3 linked regions of the Homo sapiens genome follow. The protein of the gene in region 1 interacts with the protein of each later gene in a pairwise test. Each region holds a gene or a part of one and is shown on either strand. Other genes may lie near its edges.

Region 1 (7,141 bases):
TCACAATACCTTTAGATAGTCAAGATTAACTCCTATAAAATATGTTTCTGTGGAACATAAACACAAATTATATACTCTAAAATACTTTATAAAACATATTGTAATAAATCTATAGAAGCAAGTATCTCCAGAATAATAGGTGTACTACTTCTATGAGGTTTGTTGTTACCACTAGACCAATCCTTTGCTGGGGTTGGAAAAGAGAAATGTTACAGCTTAAGGAGCTATTTTAGCTATTCCTGGCTATTCCTGGCTGACAGCGGAGATTCACCTGTGAAGTCAAAATACGATAAGCCATAGCTACCTCAGTTGTGGCTCAGAAAGTCTAACAGTATGTCCAAAACCACCACCCCCACCCCTTTCAGAACAAGTAAGGGCCCAGGGTACTGTACCTTCAGCTTGAGAACCATGGCTTGGCATATAACTTGGCACATGTGATATGATCTCAGGAAAAAGACTTTGCTGCACATGGGGATATAAACAACTACTTCTAATGCCAAGCTGGAGTTAAGATCAGAGCATAACTGAAGGAGACAAAGACACAAAAACCCCTTCAAAAAATCAGTGAATTCAGGAGCTGGTTTTTCGAAAAGATCAACAAAATTGATAGACCACCAGCAAGACTAATAAAGAAGAAAAGAGAGAAGAATCAAATAGATGCAATAAAAAAAGATAAAGGGGATATCACCACCGATGATCCCACAGAAATACAAACTACCGTCAGAGAATACTAAAAACACCTCTACGCAAATAAACTAGAAAATCTAGAAGAAATGGATAAATTCCTCGACACATACACCCTCCCAAGAATAAACCAGGAAGAAGTTGAATCTCTGAATAGAAAAATAACATGCTCTGAAATAGAGGCAATAATTAATAGCTTACCAACCAAAAGAAGTCCAGGACCAGATAGATTCACAGCTGAATTCTACCAGAGGTCCAAGGAGGAGCTGGTACCATTCCTTCTGAAACTATTCCAATGAACAGAAAAGGAGGGAATCCTCCCTAACTCATTTTATGAGGCCAGCATCATCCTGATACCAAAGCCTGGCAGAGACACAACAAAAAAAGAGAATTTTAGACCAATAACCCTGATGAACATTGATGCAAAAATCCTCAATAAAATACTGGCAAACCGAATCCAGCAGCACATCAAAAAGCTTATCCACCATGATCAAGTGGGCTTCATCCCTGGGATTCAAGGCTGGTTCAACATATGCAAATCAATAAATGTAATCCAGCATATAAACAGAACCAAAGACAAAAACCACATGATTATCTCAATAGATGCAGAAAAGGCCTTTGACAAAATTCAACAGCCTTCATGCTAAAAACTCTCAATAAATTAGGTATTGATGGAATGTATCTCAAAATAAGGAGAGCCCTCTATGACAAACCACCAGCCAATATCATACTGCATGGGCAAAACCTGGAAGCATTCCCTTTGAAAACTGGCACAAGACAGGGATGCCGTCTCTCACCACTCCTATTCAACATAGTGTTGGAAGTTCTGGCCAGGGCAATCAGGCAGGAGAAAGAAATAAAGGGTATTCAATTAGGAGAAGAGGAAGTCAAATTGTCCCTGTTTGCAGATGACATGATTGTATATGTAGAAAACCCCATTGTCTCAGCCCAAAATCTCCTTAAGCTGATAAGCAACTTCAGCAAAGTCTCAGGATACAAAATCAATGTACAAAAATCACAAGCATTCTTATACACCAATAACAGACAGAGAGCCAAATCAGGAGTGAACTCCCATTCACAATTGCTTCAAAGAGAATAAAATACCTAGGAATCCAACTTACAAGGGATGTGAAGGATCACTTCAAGGAGAACTACAAACCACTGCTCAATGAAATAAAAGAGGATACAAACAAATAGAAGAACATTCCATGCTCATGGATAGGAAGAATCAATATCATGAAAATGGCCATACTGCCCAAGGTCATTTATAGATTCAATGCCATCCCCATTAAGCTACCAATGACTTTCTTCACAGAATTGGAAAAAACTACTTTAAAGTTCATAAGAAACCAAAAAAGAGCCCGCATTGCCAAGTCAATCCTAAGCCAAAAGAGCAAAGCTGGAAGCATCATACTACCTGACTTCAAACTATACTACAAGGCTACAGTAACCAAAACAGCATGGTACTGGACCAAAACAGAGATATAGACCAATGGAACAGAACAGAGCCCTCAGAAATAATACTACACATCTACAATTATCTGATCTTTGACAAACCTGACGAAAACAAGCAATGGGGAAAGGATTCCCTATTTAATAAATGGTGCTGGGAAAACTGGCTAGCCATATGTAGAAAGCAGAACCTGGATCCCTTCCTTACACCTTATACAAAAATTAATTCAAGATGGATTAAAGACTTAAATGTAAGACCTAAAACCATAAAAACCCTAGAAGAAAACCTAGGCAATATCATTCAGGACATAGGCATGGGCAAGGACTTCATGTCTAAAACACCAAAAGCAATGGCAACAAAAGCCAAAATTGACAAATGGGATCTAATTAAACTAAAGAGCTTCTGCACAGCAAAAGAAACTACCATCAGCGTGAACAGGCAACCTACAGAATGGGAGAAAATTTTTGCAATCTACTCATCTGACAAAGGGCTAATATCCAGAATCTACAAAGAACTCAAACAAATTTACAAGAAAAAAAAAACAACCCCATCAACAAGTGTGCAAAGAATATGAACAGATACTTCTCAAAAGAAGACATTTATGCAGCCAACAGACACATGAAAAAATGCTCATCATCACTGGCCATCAGGGAAATGCAAATCAAAACCACAATGAGATACCATCTCACACCAGTTAGAATGGCAATCATTAAAAAGTCAGGAAACAACAGGTGCTGGAAAGGATGTGGAGAAATAGGAACACTTTTACACTTTTGGTGGGAGTGTAAACTAGTTCAACCATTGTGGAAGACAGTGTGGCAATTCCTCAGAGATCTAGAACTAGAAATACCATTTGACCCAGCCATCCCATTACTGGGTATATACCCAAAGGATTATAAATCATGCTGCTATAAAGACACATGCACACGTATATTTATTGCGGCACTATTCACAATAGCAAAGACTTGGAACCAACCCAAATGTCCATCAATGATAGACTGGATTAAGAAAATGTGGCACATATACACCATAGAATACTGTGCAGCCATAAAAAATGATGAGTTCATGTCCTTTGTAGGGACATGGATAAAGCTGGAAACCATACTTTTCAGCAAACTATTGCAAGAACAAAAAAACCAAACACCTCATGTTCTTAGTCATTGGTGGGAATTGAACGATGAGAACACTTGGACACAGGAAAGGTAACATCACACACTGGGGCCTGTTGTGGGGTGGAGGGAGGGGGGAAGGATAGCATTAGGAGGTATACCTAATGTAAATGACGAGTTAATGGATGCAGCACACCAACATGGCACATGTATGCATATATAACAAACCTGCACATTGTGCACATGTAACCTGGAACTTAAAGTATAATAATAAAATGTACATATATATATATATATATATATATATATATATATATATATATATATATAAATGTTCCAAGAAAACATAGATCAGAGACCACACAAATAGATATAAGCATGTAATAATAAGTAGAAGGAACATTGGGTCAAGAGGGCAGAGTGGAGATTCAGCCTAGAGAGTCTTCCTTGGGCACCAGATTGGGAAATATTTTGCAGAGGTTATGATCATGTCTAGGATATTAAAGGTGCTATTAAGGTATCCAAATCTATCCAAATATAAGATTAAGTAACTGAAGTTCCCAAATGGTGACCAGAACACAGCAGTAGGTGATTTCTCTGAAGTTCAAACGGGTCTGTTGGGAAAAAGAGGACTCCCCATAAGAAGTAGGTCACAGCCCTCAGGGCTGCTTTTCAGAACAGAGCTCCAGTTCCCAGGTAACCAATCCTACAGAGACTATTGTAGGCGTTTGCCTTTCGGAGACTTAGACATTAGGTATGATATAGAAAAAAGATTTCCAAAATCTGAACTACATGATCGGGGACATGAACTTTGTTATCCAAATAGAGGCACTGCAGGAAGATGAGCTATGACTCAGAGAACAACTTGAAACTCGGTAGACAGCAGTGGAACACAGTGTCCTGGGTCAAATTTTCGGCAAAGGGAAATTGGGGCAGAGTTAGGAAATATAGTCTCATTATGAAAACAGCATTTCTTGGACCATGGTACTAGGGAGGGGAACTTAATTCTAAATCATAATATATGGGAGATTAAGTAAAATAAATCCCTTCTTTCTTATCAGTACTAGTGTAGAAAAAGGCAGGAAGAGCCTGTGGTTACATTGTTCCTTTGTTACAAAAAGTTAACAATGAACTTTAGCCTTAGAGAATTTGGAAACTCAGAATCAAAGGAACAAAACTGGGATCTGATTAATAACATTGAAAAGAATCAACATATTAAAAGCATATTATTCTCCTTTATAAATTCATTTGATTGCCCAAATCAATTCATAACTGCCCTCGTTTCAATCAACTACAGACAATCTCTTATTTCTTCAGATGTGTGATTTAGACACTTTAAATCTCTGTGCGGAATTGAAGTGCAGTTTTGGACATTTCTGTCTCATAAATAGCATCAAATTTCTCATTTTGGGCCACGGTGAAGTAATTCTTCCAGTCACCAGCCGTCCCTAAAGGTAAATAAAAAAACATAGGAAAGAATAAAATATTTCCATAAGAAGAAATCAGTATATACCAAAGGAAAAGATTAGAAGGCCTAAAGAAAGACCTTCCTTTTATTTGAATGAATTCAAACAGTCTTTAAATTGTATTAACCTTTAAATTTTTCAGGCTTTTAAAATTTGAATAATTTTTTACATCTGGAAAGGTGGTTTATAATTAAATAGAGTCTGACATTTGAAGAGGCATTCTGAGAAAGACTAATTTTCTTGTTTAAATTCCTGGGCTTTACAATAGTTTCCCAAGAGTGATAATTTTACTGTTTCTAATGGTCGTAGGTCATGAGATTATCACTGAGCACTTGGATCAATAGTCAGGCATATTTTATTTCACAAAGTAATTTTTGGAAACTAGACAAAAAATTAGTCATCAGCACAGCAAAACTGTGAAATAAAAAGTTGATAAGTATCATTTCCTAGAATTTATAAACAAGGATGCTATGATATGGAGATGACAGTTGTTTTTCCTAAATTCACTAGGCTTGTTCTTTATTTGTAATTTAGGTGGGAATAATAACATTAATATCAAATATATAACATCCTGGAACCATGTTTTTTAAAGTAAATCTTTGAGGATAAAAATTTAAATTTAGTCTCTCATACTTGGGTATTTATAAATATGTGTTTGGAAAATGAATAAACTTTTAATGTACTGCCAATATTTTTAGAGAAAAACATCTCACTATTTTATGAAATAGTAATACATCATATTAAATTACAAGCTATATTAATCCACAGTGGTTTGATAAAACTTCCAAGTCTTTTAAAAGAAAAACATTCCTATAGATATGCTTTTTTCCCTAGTTGTTACATTTTGTTCTATGTTCACCAGATGTCAATAGCTCTGGAATTCAACATAGGGTTGAATAAGGGTTCAACATAAACATACTGGGGCTAATGCATCCGTAAGGATGTCATTAAAAACAGAGGAGAACACAGATTTAAGCAATTAAAAGTTATATATAAATCATTCCAGTGATCTGATCTGCATATAAATTTTATAATATACGCAAACACATTTACTTCAAAAAAGAACTTTTGATAAATGCTGGCCAAAGGCCAGGTTTTTCTATTTGTTATAATTTAGGACATACGACCAAACATTGGACATAATCTATCCCACCCTCATAATAATAACATTGATTTATCTAATATGGCATCTTTCAAGATTCAGTGTGCCTGGCACATTTGTTCATACTTAACTTCTTTCAGCATTCATTCATGTACATGCCCCTTGCACTACATTGTGAGCTTCTTGAGTCAAAGATATGTATCATTTACCTTTGAATCTTTTAAAGAATATGTGCTGTATATAGTTATTCATGAAGAAGTTTTTCTATATGCAAATTAACGAATGAGTACTCTAAATGTTTACTGGATACATCAGGGAAGGAAGGAAGGAAGAACGGAAGAATGGAAGGAAGGAAGGAAGGTCAAACTATTTAGACTAATAATGCTTTTTACTTCTGTATGCATTATTTATTGTGAGAAAATATCCTAAATGCTTACATATAATTTACCATAATCCTCCCCAGAAACTTTTGCCACAGGTGTTATTATATTATCTATTTTGCCAGTGATGTAATCAGAGCTTTGGCAGGTTAATTAATGTATTCAGGGAATGGTGTAGCCTGGATAAACCTCAGATCAATCTGACCACAAAAGTATGTTCTTAACCCCCTAGAGAGGGGATATAAAGACTACCTTCAATATTAGAACAGCAAGTGCTTTTTTTCTATTGAGGTTGGAGAAGCCATAGAATCCAGATATTGAGCTTGTCTTCTTTATGTCTACATCATAATTAGATGTCATGAAATGGCATCAATTTTCATATGATTTGAGATAAAATTTCTGGGAAATTATATTCACGTATCTATCACAATGAGAATTTGCCTTGTTTAATAAAGATTTATTTTCTGATTCTTCTACCAGGAAAAAGAATATATATGTACATGTACACAACTGACCCTTGAACAATACAGACTTGCGCTGGCCAGGTTCACTTATATGCAGTTTTTTTCCAACTAAAAGCAATAAAAAATACAGTATTTGCATGATGAGAAACCCACCCACATGTTTTGAGTGCCAATTTTCATATAGGCAGGTTCTAGTATATTCAGAGGCAGAGTTCCTGGAACCAATCCCCCACATATAGCAAGGGATGACTGTCCATACACATACATTTACATCTGTGTATAAGCATACAGATAAGATATATACACATCAGTCTTCTTTGCTCAAACTTATAATGCATACAATTTTTGATGAAAAATATACCTGCTTTCTTACTCTAGAAGTTATTTTTAATAGGTTAAATATATTGTTTTTAGAAAAGAAAGAGCACAATTTGAAAACACTAGGACTATTTGCTACCTTAATAAGTTAACAAACAACTTTTC
Region 2 (6,882 bases), on another chromosome or scaffold:
TTTGCAGATCTGTATTCCTTCCACAGGGATTTTATGGTGTTTCTAGAAATATAAGTTGTTCTTGGAACATGCTAGTATATGTACAAGTAAACTTTACAAATACGTGAAAAGACCCATGTTAACTTTAAAAAGGTGTTATTGTCTGAATCTTTGTGTCACCCCAAAATTGTTATGTTAAAATCTTAACCCCCAAGGTGATGGTATTAGGAGGTGGGGCTTTTGGGAGGTGAGTAGGTCATAAGGGCAGAGCCCTCATGATGAGATTAGTGCCAAATTAAAGAGGCCCAAGGGAGCTCCTTGCCCCTTCTGCCACATGAGGGCACAGTGAAAAGGTGCCGTTTACGAACCAGGACACAGCCCTTACCAGACACCAAATCTGCCAGCACCTTGATCTTGGACTTCCCAGCCTCCAGAACTGGGAGAGATAAATTTCTGCTGTTTATAAGCCCCCCACTCTGTGGTATTCTGTTATAGCAGCCCAAACATAGTAAGACAAAGAGTAACATGAAAAAAGTGCTCTGCCATAGTTTTAGCATCACTGTTTTAATTTCATGAAATACAAGTACAAAACATTGTATAAGTATACTTTTTACTACATGGAGATGAACTAATACATTTATGTTTTTATCAGAATCTGTATCACCCAGCGCTGGTCAATGTACTAGTAGCTTTCCACAGGGATTTTTTATACTATTCCTATAAGGTTTTATCATGAATAAAAAAGCTCACAACTCTTTTCAGCCATTGCAGATTCACATTTATCTTAATATTCCTGTTCAAGATGCTCTGGAGAACTGTTAAGAACTACAAAATCACCTTAGGCAGAGTTTTGAATGAGTAATTTTATTTCACGTTGGCCAAGATCTCCCTTATGTTGGCATTGCAAAGACACTGCACTTATCTGAGGTTAGAAAAAATGTAGTCTTAATAGCCCTCTTAATGTGTAGCAAGGCAAATTACCATTTCCTAAAATGTCCAGAATATCATAGTAGTTAGTTATTCGTTAAGCAGTAAGTCATGAAACTCCACTTATAGAAGACAATAGCAACAGAGGACCACTAAGTCCTAAATATACCAAAGAAAAACAAGTTTACAAATATTCAAACTGTCTGTCTTCTCTACCTCTAAAATGGTTTAACCACATCAAGTGAGAGTAACATCAGCCAATTAGAAAGGGAAAAAGTAAACTGTGCTAGCGTCCGGCATTCAGCTTCCATAGCATGTCTCACAGTTTTCGGCCATTTCAGCTAAGAGTTTTCTTATGACAGGCAAAAATAATGATTAAAATACCATTAGCTTTGCTGAGAAATGTGGAAAAAAAAATCACAATGTCAAAAATATTTGAAACTAATTTTGTTTTTATAAATAAATAAAATGGTGTTTATCTTTTCTTAAAATTCTTGCTGTTAAAACATTCAAAGTTATGTCAACCTGTAAGGATAAAGGGGTATTTAAGATAACATGTTTGGAAAACTAAACCACATTTTTAATTGCCAGCATTATGCTTTGTTCTTGGTAGAGTCATCCTTGTTTCTTCTTTTTACATCCCAATTATAAACCCTGGCCATATCTGCAAGAATTGTCAAAGAAAATGCAAATGCAATTCTAAAGATAATGCATGCAATGACTAAGTATTCACTCCACTCACACAATGAATCAAAGACACAGAAATGAAACATATACAAATACTGGTAACAAATAGTATTGTAAGACATCCTGCTATAATGTCAATTGTTAGGAAAATACTATAATTAAACTCTATCAAAACTAAGGACTCAAATTAATTGTTAACCCATTGTTTACTATGGTATTAGTCAACTGTCAGCTAGTCAACTATGATATATTTAACAAATATGTACTAGACACTCTCGATAGTTTTAAAGACAGTCCCTCATCCAAGAAATCTGAAAGATCACTCAACCCATATCCTGCCATGTAATATTTATATTATTACAATTATCAATAATTTTATCTCTTACCCTCCCTTTGGCTTAACAAGTTTATTAAGCATCTACTGTATTTTTGACTAGGCACTGTACAAAGCCCTGACCTGAATAAGACAGGTGAAGTTCTTTTCCTCGTGGAGCTTAGACTCCAGTAGAATGTCAATGTAACAGAGACTGTCCACCCTAGCTCCCTCACTTGTCTGCACACCTTCCTTTCCTACCTTTTGCAGTACTAGCAATAACAAATGGCATTTAACTAAGCTTGTAGGACTCATCTTAGAGGATTTCCTCACTTTTGGCTCCTGTACCCATCTAAGTCACTGGATCCTGTTTTTTTCTCACACGTTTAATATCTTTTCCTTTCCACAAGCCACCCGTCCTAGGCCCTCGTCATCTCATAGCTGGATGAAGTTTCCACACTACCCGTCAGATGATGATGACCACTGCACTAGGCCCCAACAGGCCTGCCTTCCCTCAGCCAACCATAAACAACTGCCACATGCTGCACACTGGAAAAGAAGAGAAAGTGCAGCTCCTACATCTGAAGAGCTCACGGTTTGGCAAGGTAAAACTAAGCAGTATGTGTTAAGCAAGCACACAAGAAACACTCTGAGGATCAGAAAATGTTCAGGAAAGCTCTGATGCTTGGACTGAGATATTTAGGGTAAAAGGGTAAAAAAAGAGCACATCCTGTAAATATGGGAAAGTCATTCCAGTTAGGAGGAACAAAGTGTAGAAATGCAAAGGGTGTGGCACAATTGGGGAGTGTGTACAATAACTGACTGGGGTTATCTGGAACCTGGAATGCACTGGGGAAAGGCAAGAAGAGGTCAGTGGCATGAGGTGAGACAAGCTGGGGGCACTTCACAAGAGTGCCTATATGTATATCTTGTAAGTAACAAGGAACCGTTGAAATATTGTAACCAGAGGAATAAAAATGAGTGACCTAGTAAATTCATACTAGAGATAGTGGGAAGGACAGATGGAATGAGAGGAACCTAAAAAGGTTCTGAGTGCAGGTTTTGGAGCCCCAGAACGAGAACAGTAATGGGCAGAGAGATTTATGAGGGAAATTTGATGTGAATCTGGCGACTGATTTATTATTGGTAGTGAGGAAGAGAGAAGTGTGAAAGGTGACTCCCGTGATTTTGTCTTGAGTGACTGTGACAGGAAGTAGGAGGAAAAGACAGGCCAGAGAAGAAAGGCAAAGAGCTTGCCTTCCCCCTTGACCAGAATACCCCACTCCCACCTCTTCTCTCTGCTGATCTTTAAACCCTACGCCGCCTTTAAAAAAGCAGCCTAACTTTTATCTTCTCAACAAAGCCTTCTTTGAACTAAGTCCAGCCTACATCTATCTTTCCCAAAGTTTAAATTGCCTTGGTGTTGCATATGTTAACTTACTTATAGTTTGCTATGAATTATCATTCAGCTGTTTTACATGTACAGTTCTACCAGAGAAAGGCACTGCCACTCTTTTCTAAAATTGATTTTCATGCCCCATATGTCTTAGCACAGTTGCAGGAACATAGGAGACCCTTAAATGCTTGTGAAATTAAACTATTTAACCAGTTATAAAGTTGTCTTGGGAAAATATTTGGAAGAAAAATACTTACTCACCTATGTGAATTTGCTGTTTCCACATCACATTTCAAAATCACTAATCTATCTACAAACTTATTTAAGTACTAGTTCCGAATATCTTATTTATTATCTTATAAAATCTATAACCTTTATATTAGCCTAATAAGGAAATTCTTCCCACTAAAGCAATGTAAGAAAGAATGTGGGAGGTTTTTTGTATTCTAATTTTTTTTTAGTTCTAGGGTACATGTGCAGGATGTGCAGGTTTGTTACAAAGGTAAACGTGTGCCATGGTGGTTTGCTGCACCTATCAACCCATCACCTAGGTATTAAGCCCAGCATGCATCAGCTATTTTTCCTAATGCTCTCCCTCTGCCCATGAAAGAATGTTTTTTTAAAAAAATCTTTCTCCTTTTTTCCCTTGCTTTTTGTTTTAAGAAAGGATACTGACTTCTGTGGTAGTAAATTGATCTCGAAGAAAGTCAAGGTCTTCCTCCAGGGAATCAAGATTCTTTGTGGCAGTCGATAAATTCTTTTCCAACAATGCCTGAGCTTCATCAATATCATATTCAAGCATTACATTAGCCTGAAGAGAGAAAGTCATGACAATTACTCAATATTTACACAGAGCTTTATAGGTTAGAGTAAAGTGTGGGCAAACTACAGCCCTCAGGTCAAATCCAGCTTGCTGCCTTTTGTTGTAAGTTAAGTTTCACTGGAGCCCAGCTATTCTCTACTCAGGCTTTCATACCACAATGGCAAAACTGAGTGGTTGAGACAGAGACCATGTGATCTACAAAACCAAAAATATTTACCATTTGACCTTTTACAGAAAGTTTGCTGACCCCTTGGTTAAAGAATATATTTACATACATTGTATCATTTAATCCTCAACCCTGCTGAGGCCAAAGTTGTCTTCTTCACAGTTAAAGAAATGAAGGCTCAGGTTTCCTTAGCTGGCATAGCTAGTGGGTAAATGGGAGAATCAGGATAAGAAACCAGTATGTTTAGATACAAAATCCTATCTTTCTACTACCTCCATCGTGAAACTAAATAGTGTTGTTTGTATCAATTTAAATAAATTCTGAGCTTGAGATATGATATTAATTTAAAATTTTTCAAAGACATTTATTATCATCTATATTTGACCAGGTAAAAAAGACAGCTAGCTTTTACCTGTCCCTTCCTACTACTTCTGACAGATGTTAGGGATTAAGACAAGGTAATGTGTCTGTCATTCTGAAGATCTAGTGTTACTGCCAACATTCAGGGATGCATGTACCCTGGAATTGGGAAGCCACACCTTTTACAGCTTTGAACTCTCCCTATCACCTGACTTACCACTGGCATTTCCTAAACCACTTTCCTCATCTCACAAATGCAATTTTAAAATTACTCAAAGGATTGTTGTAAGGATTAAACAAGACAACATGAAAGTATTTGGCACAAAGTAAATGCCAAATAAATACTTATTGACCAAATAATCCAATCCATAATTAGAAAACTGTATTAAAATTCAGATAGGACAAAAATATTCAACATAAGCAAAGACTGAACATAAATATAACAAGAATCCACAAAGAAAAAAAAACCAAAGCAGGGGACCAAAAAAATTTCTAAATCCTTCATTTCAACAAAATGTTCCTGAAATGTGACACATGCACATACTACACACACACACACACACACACACACACATACACACACACACACTGGGTGAAATGACACGCAAAATGAAATGAAAGGGTACTTTGTATACCTGGGGGAAACTGACCCAAAAGTCCTTTGAGCATCCAGGCAAAAAGAACACATCACTCATAGAAGAAAGAAATCAGTTTGCCCTCACACTTTTTGACAGTGATGCTTTACAACAAAAGAAAATGGGGCACTGTATAAGATGCTCAAGGAAATAAAATGTGAGTTTAAGATATTATATCCAGCAAAACTGAATTTCAAGTACAAAGGCCACAGACAAGTTGTCAGCAACATGAGATAACTCAGGGAATATCATTCCCATAAATCTTAAGGCAATCTACTTATCAGACGAATGAGTAACATACAATCAAAATGACTGGATGATGACTGGGGGGACATCAACATAAAGACTATGATGTGCATTCAATATTTACACGAAGAACTAGGATAAATGAAAGATGAGAGAGAGAAAGAGAGAGAGCAAACAGTATATAATGGCTCTGTGCTCCAACAATGTGGGAACAACCTTATAAAGAATGTGTAAGGACAGGAAGAACATATGCAAAAATGTCAGTGGTAACAGTGTTGGGTGGTGTTATTCTAAGAATGCTTTGCGTGTGAATAGTAATGTTGTCTAGCTTAATTCTATCACCCTTGGTATTTCTGAAAACCAGGATTCTTGATATAGAAGAAACAGGGGGGCCAGGCGCGGTGGCTCACACCTGTAATCCCAGCACTTGGCAGGCTGAGATGAGTGGATCACTTGAGGTCAGGAGTTCAAGGCCAGCCTAGCCAACATGGCGAAACCCCGTCTCTACTAAAAATACAAAAATTAGCTGGGCGTGGTGGCACGTGCCTGTAATCCCAGCTACTCAGGAGGCTGAAGGAGGAGAATCACTTGAACCCAGGAGGCGGAAGTTGCAGTGACCCAAGATCACGTCACTGCGCTCCAGCCCGGGCGACAGAACAAGACTCTGTCTCAAAAAAAAAAAAAAAAAAAAAAAAAAAAACAGAGGAACAACTAAAGTGAAAACTCTGTTGTCCTGAATTTGAATTGGAGGTAACAGTATGAAACCATGAGGTACACACATATTAACCTGAACCTTTGCACACAAGTTTATGCAGGTTAGCTATATCCTACTGGTTCTATTTCTCCGGTTGAACCCTGACAACAGATTCGTTCACTTACACTTTGCTTTATGCAGTTTTCTGATTTTTTTGTTTATATTTAATATTATATACATATAGAAAAGTATTCATATCATAAATATATAGCTTGATGTATTTTCACAAACTTAACACACTCATGGAACCAGCATCCAGATCAAGGACAGGTTATCACCAACACCCCAAAGCTTCCTTGTGAACATTTTCAGTTACCACCAGCACCCCCACCGCAAAGGTAACCATTAACCTGACTTACAGCATAGTTTTGCCTGTATTACAACTTTACATAAACAGAATGACACAGTATATGTGCTCTTTTGTGACTGACTTCTATAGTAGGCAAGAATTATGGCTCCCATAACAGCTGTCTCATTCTAATCTCTGGAATCTGTGACTCTGATGAGATATTTACATCATTTGTCAGAGCTGACCTTAATATACAGACTGCCTAGGTAGGCCTAATCTAGTTATATGAGCCCTTAAGAGCAGAGAA
Region 3 (7,000 bases), on another chromosome or scaffold:
GGCTGCTACCTCCAGCTCAAGCTTCATAACCTAATAGCCAAGGACCCCTGGCACAGAGTGCCTATTTTAAGGGGGAATGTTTTATCTAGCCTAACTTCCAGTTTAGAGGACATTCAGCAGTAACAGAGATAATGGGTAGAGGAAATGATAGCACAGGATCCATGTGCGACATGCTGCTAAACCTTGGGCAACAAGTAGGTTAATCTTTGTGGGACTCTGTTTCCACATTTTAAATGAGTCAGTGAAACTAGAGGGTTTCCATAGTTCTCCCAGCTCTATGAGAAGCTGTTATACTTCTTTTACAGAAAACCGTAGATCATCAGTGTTTGCTCTCAATAAAAGTAGTTCAAATGCATTTTTGTGCGGTACTGAGCATACTCCAGGCAGATAATGTGGACAATCAGTAAGTGTTTATAGTTTGTACAGGACATAGCACCAGTTACTAAAAAGCCACAACATCTCTTCAAAACAAAATTCCTAGTACTTCATGCAGCTGAATTTCAAACTTCAAATGAAGTTGAAGAAAACTCAGTCAAGACACATCATTGTTCTTGAACATACCCTGCCAATTTTCCTATGATCTCGGTTTTTAGCTTCCTCTTGGAACTTCTCCCACTCTTTCAACATTTTAGGATCTGGGAATGAAATGCCATAAATTCTCTGGAGAGTCTCCATATCTGCTTTGCCTTCCCAGTACGTGGAGGAATTCTGAAAACAAGGATTAACCATGAAACAACATTCAAATTTGTAAACATCTCACTTATTTTAACTCCCAATTGCTTTGAGGCCTTGTTAGAGTAGTTACTCATTCTGCAGCACAAAGTTGGCTGTTTTCTATCCTCAAAAATGCCCCTCCCTCAATCTGCAGGTGGGTGCAGTGGCTCATGCCTGTAATCCCAGCACTCTGTGAAGCCGAGGCAAGAGGATTGCTTGAGCCTGGGAGTTCGAGACCAGCCTGGGAAACACAGGGAGACCCCATTCTTTATTTAAAAAAAAGAAAATTACCCAGGCATGGTGGTGTGCGCTTATGGTCGCAGCTACTCAGGAGGCTAAGGCAGGAGGACTGCTTGAGCCTGGAGTGCAGTGGCACGATCTCCATTCACTGCAACCTCATTTCCCAGGCTCAAGTGGTCCTCCACTCTGTCTTTTTGGGGCAACAGAGTGAGACCCATTCTACACCCCAATACCCCCAAAACTGCCCACCCCTCAATACTCAACCACAATTCCACAAACATTACTTTGCCTGCAAAGGCATTTCTCACAAAATGAGCAAAAATAGAAATGAGCCAATAAAAAAAAAATCTTGAAATGACTCAATTATTCTCTTGATTTAAAGTGCATTTTAAAAACCTCCATAAAATGTTTATGAACTAGTATAAAACTGGGTTCTGTTAAAAACAACAACTTGGGAAATTATTAATTTAGACATATAAAGGGCAAAAGCACATACTCCCAGTGAGTCTCAAAGCTTTTATAGAGCCAGGATGGCCCATGCTGTATGATTTTGTAAAATCTCCATCCCCTGTGATTGCTCTGGCAATGACAGCAAGTCAGTCACCCCTTGAGGGATTTCAATTATAAAATCCTGATGGCATACAGCTCCCAGTTAATAGAGAGCATGAGAAAATACCATCCTTTCATGTGCAACAGAAAATGGTAAAGAGAAATCAGTGAAAGTTTAAACATATATCTATTCTAGACAGATACATTCACAGTCTTTAAAGTTACATTACTTACTTTGTGTATTTTTAAAGCCTTAATTTTGCCCGTGTGTCTAACATGAGGACCCCGGCAGAGATCTATCAAAGGGCCACATCTAAAGATAAAATGAAAGGAATTTTAACAAAGACAAAATGACATACATACCAGATACATTTAATGACATCTAATATTCTTACCTATAGACTGTGGTAGTTGGAGTATTCACCTTTTCATTCAATATCCGGCATTTGAACTTGTTGTACTGAAAACAGGAAAAATTATTATTTTAAAAAACTGTCCTTTAATTTTTACTTCTAAGTACTATAGCTAAAACGTAGCACTGTATGAATATAAATGTTGATACTTCATGTTTTAAAAACATGTTGAAGGAATGGTTTGCTAGGAAAAAAATGAAATTAAAAAAATAATAAAAACACTTAATTTTTGCTAAAGAACCAATTAGACTTCAGCTTAGTACACGGAACGCCAGTGGTGTCACTTCAACTAACATGAATAAATGATATTAACAGTGGGGGCCACGCACTATGGTTCAATTTACCTTAAACATTGCCAGTAAAGTTTCTTTCTTAACTTCCAGTCTTTCAAAAGCTTGTTTTTCTTTAATGATTTTCTTACACAAAGCCTCCAGAGAAGAGAAATCATTGCTAGACACACCCCTGAAGGAGAAGAAAGTATAATCTTTTCATTCCATTCGAATCACACCATGGCTTCGAAAAATGTTCATTTGGAAATAGTATTTGGAATACTTCAAGGGTTTTAATATTAAAAAATTAGACTATTGCATCGTATCTTAGAATTCTAAACAAAACATTTTTCATAAGTAATTTTTACATTTTATATTTTCAGTAGCTTCTACCTTGGTCATCCATGGAGACCTTTCTCACTAGTGACCCCTTCCCGCAACTCTATCACCAGGTTTTAAAGGAGAGGGGAGGACCAGTCTCCCTGAATTTCCCAAAATACCTTAGGACTCTACCTCCATCAATCTAGAACAGAGGTCTCATCAAATCCTCTATTACTTCAGGTAAATTGCAACACTTCAAGTACTGATAATGGGCATACCTGATGAAGAAGCAGTGAGATCTATATCATTCCTCCCTTACTGAGAACTCTTAAGAATAACTTATGGATCCATAGTCATTGACTTCAGTTTTCTTTATCTAGTTGATGGCTTACCCTTCTTCGAGGTACATGTCATAATAGAATCCATTTTCTATTGGCGGACCGTAGCATAAACATCCACCATAGACTCTTTCCATGGCTTCACCCATTATGTGAGCACTAGAGTGCCAATACACCTGAAAATTTAAAGAAAAATGGCATGGTCTGAGTCTTGGCATACAAGTTGCCAATTAATGTGGTTGTCTGAAAGAGACAGATGATAATATTTACTACAAGTAAACCCAATATATAAAATCCTAAATTTCTAAATCTATAAACTACTGTTTCTATCCATAGCCAAAGTAATTCAAAAGGCTTCCAATTACTAGTGTATTTTTATTTTGGAAATCATCTGGTTTAGCTGTTTTCAAACAAATTAAACTAAACTTGGCATCACTAATTAAATGACATAGACTTTGTTCTCTGAAAACAACTGCTACTCACAATGTGACTAACTCATTGATTGCAATGGCCCAGGTTCTTTTGAGTCAATGTGCCCACAGCACCATGTCTCAGACACTGTGATCTGGCCTTTAGCTGGCTATGGAACATCACTTAGAAATTACATGTTGTTACTGGCCCAAAACAAAGGTGGTACAACCCGACCCCACAACACAATGACAAAACACGAGGACAAACATCTGTACACTGAAATCAAATGGCAGTACTTGGTTTTAAAGTAATCACTGGGATGAGTCAGAATACACCCAAAGCAATGTTTTCAAGATTTAGTATTAAGGTACCAAAGTGACATTAAAAAATTCTCGTAAGAAACTTGAGGGCTCCAAAATACATTTGAAAACCACTAATCCACATACATAAGTGAACAATCATCACTAAAACAAAATACTTTGTCTCCCCTTATATGATACACAGCCATGGAGAATTAAAAAGAAAATCTTGTCATCACATGCAGGTTGACTTTTATAGTGTTATCCAGCAGATTTGCATCTTAAGATGAGAAAAAAATACAGAAATTATCCAATAAAGGCAGTGCTTTGAAGTAAGGTTCAAATTTATTTGTCAAATGTACATATCTTGCTAGAGTGTTCATAGCTTAGAGGCCAGGCACAGTGGCTCACACCTATAATCCCAGCACTTTGGGGGGCCGAGGTGGGCAGATCACTTGAGGTCAGGAGTTCAAGACCAGCCTGGCCAACATGGTGAAACCCCATCTCTACTAAAAATACAAAAATTAGCCAAGTGTGGTAGTGCGCTCCTATAATCCCAGCTACTTGGGAGGCTGAGGCAGGAGAATAGCTTGAACCTGGGAGGTGGAGGTTGTACTGAGGCAAGAGCGCACCACTGCACTACAGTCTGAGTGACAAAGCAAGACTCCATCATTAAAAAAAAAAAAAATTAAAATAAAATAGTGTTCACAGTTTAGAAAACAATTTTTACTTGCTTAATCAATGTTTAATACAATTCCCAAAACATTTTCCCTATTGAAGTGTCTAGTAATGAAAAGACTTATTCAGCTTCACCCCTTTATTTTCTAAGGCAAGCACTTTTATTATGTTCCCTAAATGAAGGACAAAATGAAGATTTCAAATATGACAGTGAGACAACAATAAATGTTAGCCACCCAATCGCAGCAGGACTGAGCTGGAAAAGACTTCAAATGTGAATCTGCATCCTAAAATTCAATGAATACTAATCAGCAACTTACTGCCTGAGCTTCCTCATCCTCAAACTTGAGAAGCTCCAAGGTACAATCTTCTTCCAGAGGGCGGTCCAGGTCCCACACAACATTATTTACTTTAGCAATAACGGTGTTGTCGGCCAGGCCTTGACTTAAAAAAAAAAAAAAAAAAAAAAGTCCACACATATATAAGTACACACGAATCTAATTTGAAAACAGGAAAATAAACACTATTTTTATTATATATTGTTTTTTTATATTGATGTATCTCTATTTTTCTGAAATATAATGATAAAAACAACAAATTCCAAAAATGTACCTAAGAACCTAACTGGAAGATCCTGAAAATGCAGAACATTATCATTTGACATTGAATGCCTCCTGTTTAAGCAGATATGGCAACTCTGATAAATAAGCACTATCAATTTCCAATGGTTTGAATAATCTTAATTTCTCCAACAAATAAGTTTTTTTTTTTTTAATTTTTTAGCGACAGGGTCTTGCTATGTTGCGCAGGCTGGCCTCCTGGCCTGAAGCAATCCTCCAACATCAGCCTCTAGAGTAGCTGGGACAACTGGCACAAGTCACCACACCGAGTTTTCTCTTAATACACCCACCTTTCTCTTTCTACAAAGCTAAGCTATGTAGACTCCAAAGGAAAAAAAAAAGGCCTACTAAATAACTTCTCTGTTCCTCTTCCTGCTTAAAATGTACACCAGATCCTTTCTTTGACAGACAATGCTAACCTCAGAATAAATTCTGCAAATGCCTATGATAATATTTATAACAAATATAGAGGTAAAATGAAAGACTATTTAATAAAACTTTCCATATAATGTGAGTAAAAACATTACACACCCAATATACAACATCGAACATAAAGTATCATCAAGTGATGAAATATCAGAGCACACAGAGTGTAAAAGCTACAGGAGTTCTGAGGAGGGAAAGCAGTACAGGTCAGAGTCATCTGGAAAGGCTTTGAGGATAAAGCACTCACAGGAAGAAAAGAGGAGGCCATGGCATTCCAGATGAGGGAATGGCCACAGATGCAAGCAGAGATGCAAGTGAAGAGAGGTTTTTGCAGGAAGCTGTGTGACTAGAGCAGAGTTGAGTAGGTGAGCCAGATTATACATCTAAATGCACAGCTAGAGAAATAATAGTCTATAACAGCCTGGACATCTCAACGAAGGTAGGCAACATTCTACACTGTGAAGAAAAAGTATACACCCTTTACACTGTAAATCTCAAAGAAACCTACCACTAGAAGGCTTTAAGCTAGCCAGGCTTGCTGTGTTGGTGGCTCTCTATGTCTAAGGGTTTACAACAAAATGTATACAACTCCTATCTGAGGATCAAGAGAAAAGAACCAAACAGAAAGTAAACAACAAACTCCTTTCTATTTTCAATGCTCCTACTAACTTTACCATAGGTTATAAACAATGTTTTCTTTCCTCCTGAGATCAGATGGAGTCAATAAAATAAATACATGCATTTCACAAAACATAACATGAATTTGGCAGAGAGAAATGTATTTCATCATATTGGTGTAAAACAGTTTTCAGGAGATTAAAGAACTGATAAAAAGGATAATCATATTCTCTATATTCTTTGGGAAGAACATGACTTTTATCTTATGATCCAATATGGAGCCCCAAGATTCTAAGAATAGAGTTACTCTGAAAATGTAGATTACACATGGGCCATACTGGATCATTTCAATTTTTCAAAGAAGGGTAAAATAATCTTTAAGATTTGTAACAAAACGGCCAGGCGCAGTGGCTCACGCCTGTAATCCCAGCACTTTGGGAGGCCGAGGCGGGTGGATCACGAGGTCAGGAGATCAAGACCATCCTGGCTAACACAGTGAAACCCCGTCTCTACTAAAAATACAAAAATTAGGCAGGCGTGGTGGCGGGCGCCTGTAATCCCAGCTACTCAGGAGGCCGAGGCAGGAGAATGGCGTCAACCCAGGAAGCGGAGCTTGCAGTGAGCCAAGATGGCGCCAATGCACTCCAGCCTGGGCGACAGAGCGAGACTCCTCCGTCTCAAAAAAAAAAAAAAAAGATTTATAACAAAACTTCAAAGAAAAACCTTTTGACGCAAATGGAACATGTCTTTTTTGTCCTTCCCTTTCATATTCACCACTAATTATGTGAATCTTTAAATAGCCTGTTATCAATGTTATAATTTTTCACAGAACAAAAAGTTATTCTGGACTTTTGTAAAAATTTCATAAAGTATTCTCAGTGCAGATCAGTGACTTAACTCCAGAGCTAAAGCCCATCAATGTTTTATGTAATTCAACCTTTTATTTTTTTCCCTGGAGACGGACTCTCGCTCTGTCACCAAGGCTGGAGTGCAGTGGCTCAATCTTGGCTCACTGCAACCTCCACCTCCCGAGTTCAAGCTATCCTCCCACCTCAGCCTCCAAGTAGTTGGGACTACAGGTGTGCGCCACCATGACTGGCTAAT

The links.
Region 2: the proteins of SULT1B1 (region 1) and VBP1 interact in binary tests that used the Homo sapiens proteins (3 or more experiments, as listed by UniProt).
Region 3: the proteins of SULT1B1 (region 1) and TARS1 interact in binary tests that used the Homo sapiens proteins (3 or more experiments, as listed by UniProt).

Annotation. Positions count from the first base shown.
Region 1 is NC_000004.12:69,722,507-69,729,647, forward strand, and holds part of SULT1B1 (sulfotransferase 1B1), read right to left. Parts: intron 4,695-7,141; coding exon 4,582-4,694; 3' UTR 1-4,581. UniProt on the Homo sapiens protein: Sulfotransferase that utilizes 3'-phospho-5'-adenylyl sulfate (PAPS) as sulfonate donor to catalyze the sulfate conjugation of dopamine, small phenols such as 1-naphthol and p-nitrophenol and thyroid hormones, including 3,3'-diiodothyronine, triidothyronine (T3) and reverse triiodothyronine (rT3).
Region 2 is NC_000023.11:155,233,460-155,240,341, reverse strand, and holds the end of VBP1 (prefoldin subunit 3), read right to left. Parts: intron 4,114-6,882; coding exon 3,975-4,113; intron 1,571-3,974; coding exon 1,500-1,570; 3' UTR 501-1,499; downstream 1-500. UniProt on the Homo sapiens protein: Binds specifically to cytosolic chaperonin (c-CPN) and transfers target proteins to it. Binds to nascent polypeptide chain and promotes folding in an environment in which there are many competing pathways for nonnative proteins.
Region 3 is NC_000005.10:33,450,965-33,457,964, reverse strand, and holds part of TARS1 (threonine--tRNA ligase 1, cytoplasmic), read right to left. Parts: intron 5,625-7,000; coding exon of another isoform or gene 5,526-5,624; intron 4,677-5,525; coding exon 4,553-4,676; intron 3,021-4,552; coding exon 2,899-3,020; intron 2,379-2,898; coding exon 2,261-2,378; intron 1,964-2,260; coding exon 1,899-1,963; intron 1,817-1,898; coding exon 1,738-1,816; intron 709-1,737; coding exon 562-708; intron 1-561. UniProt on the Homo sapiens protein: Catalyzes the attachment of threonine to tRNA(Thr) in a two-step reaction: threonine is first activated by ATP to form Thr-AMP and then transferred to the acceptor end of tRNA(Thr).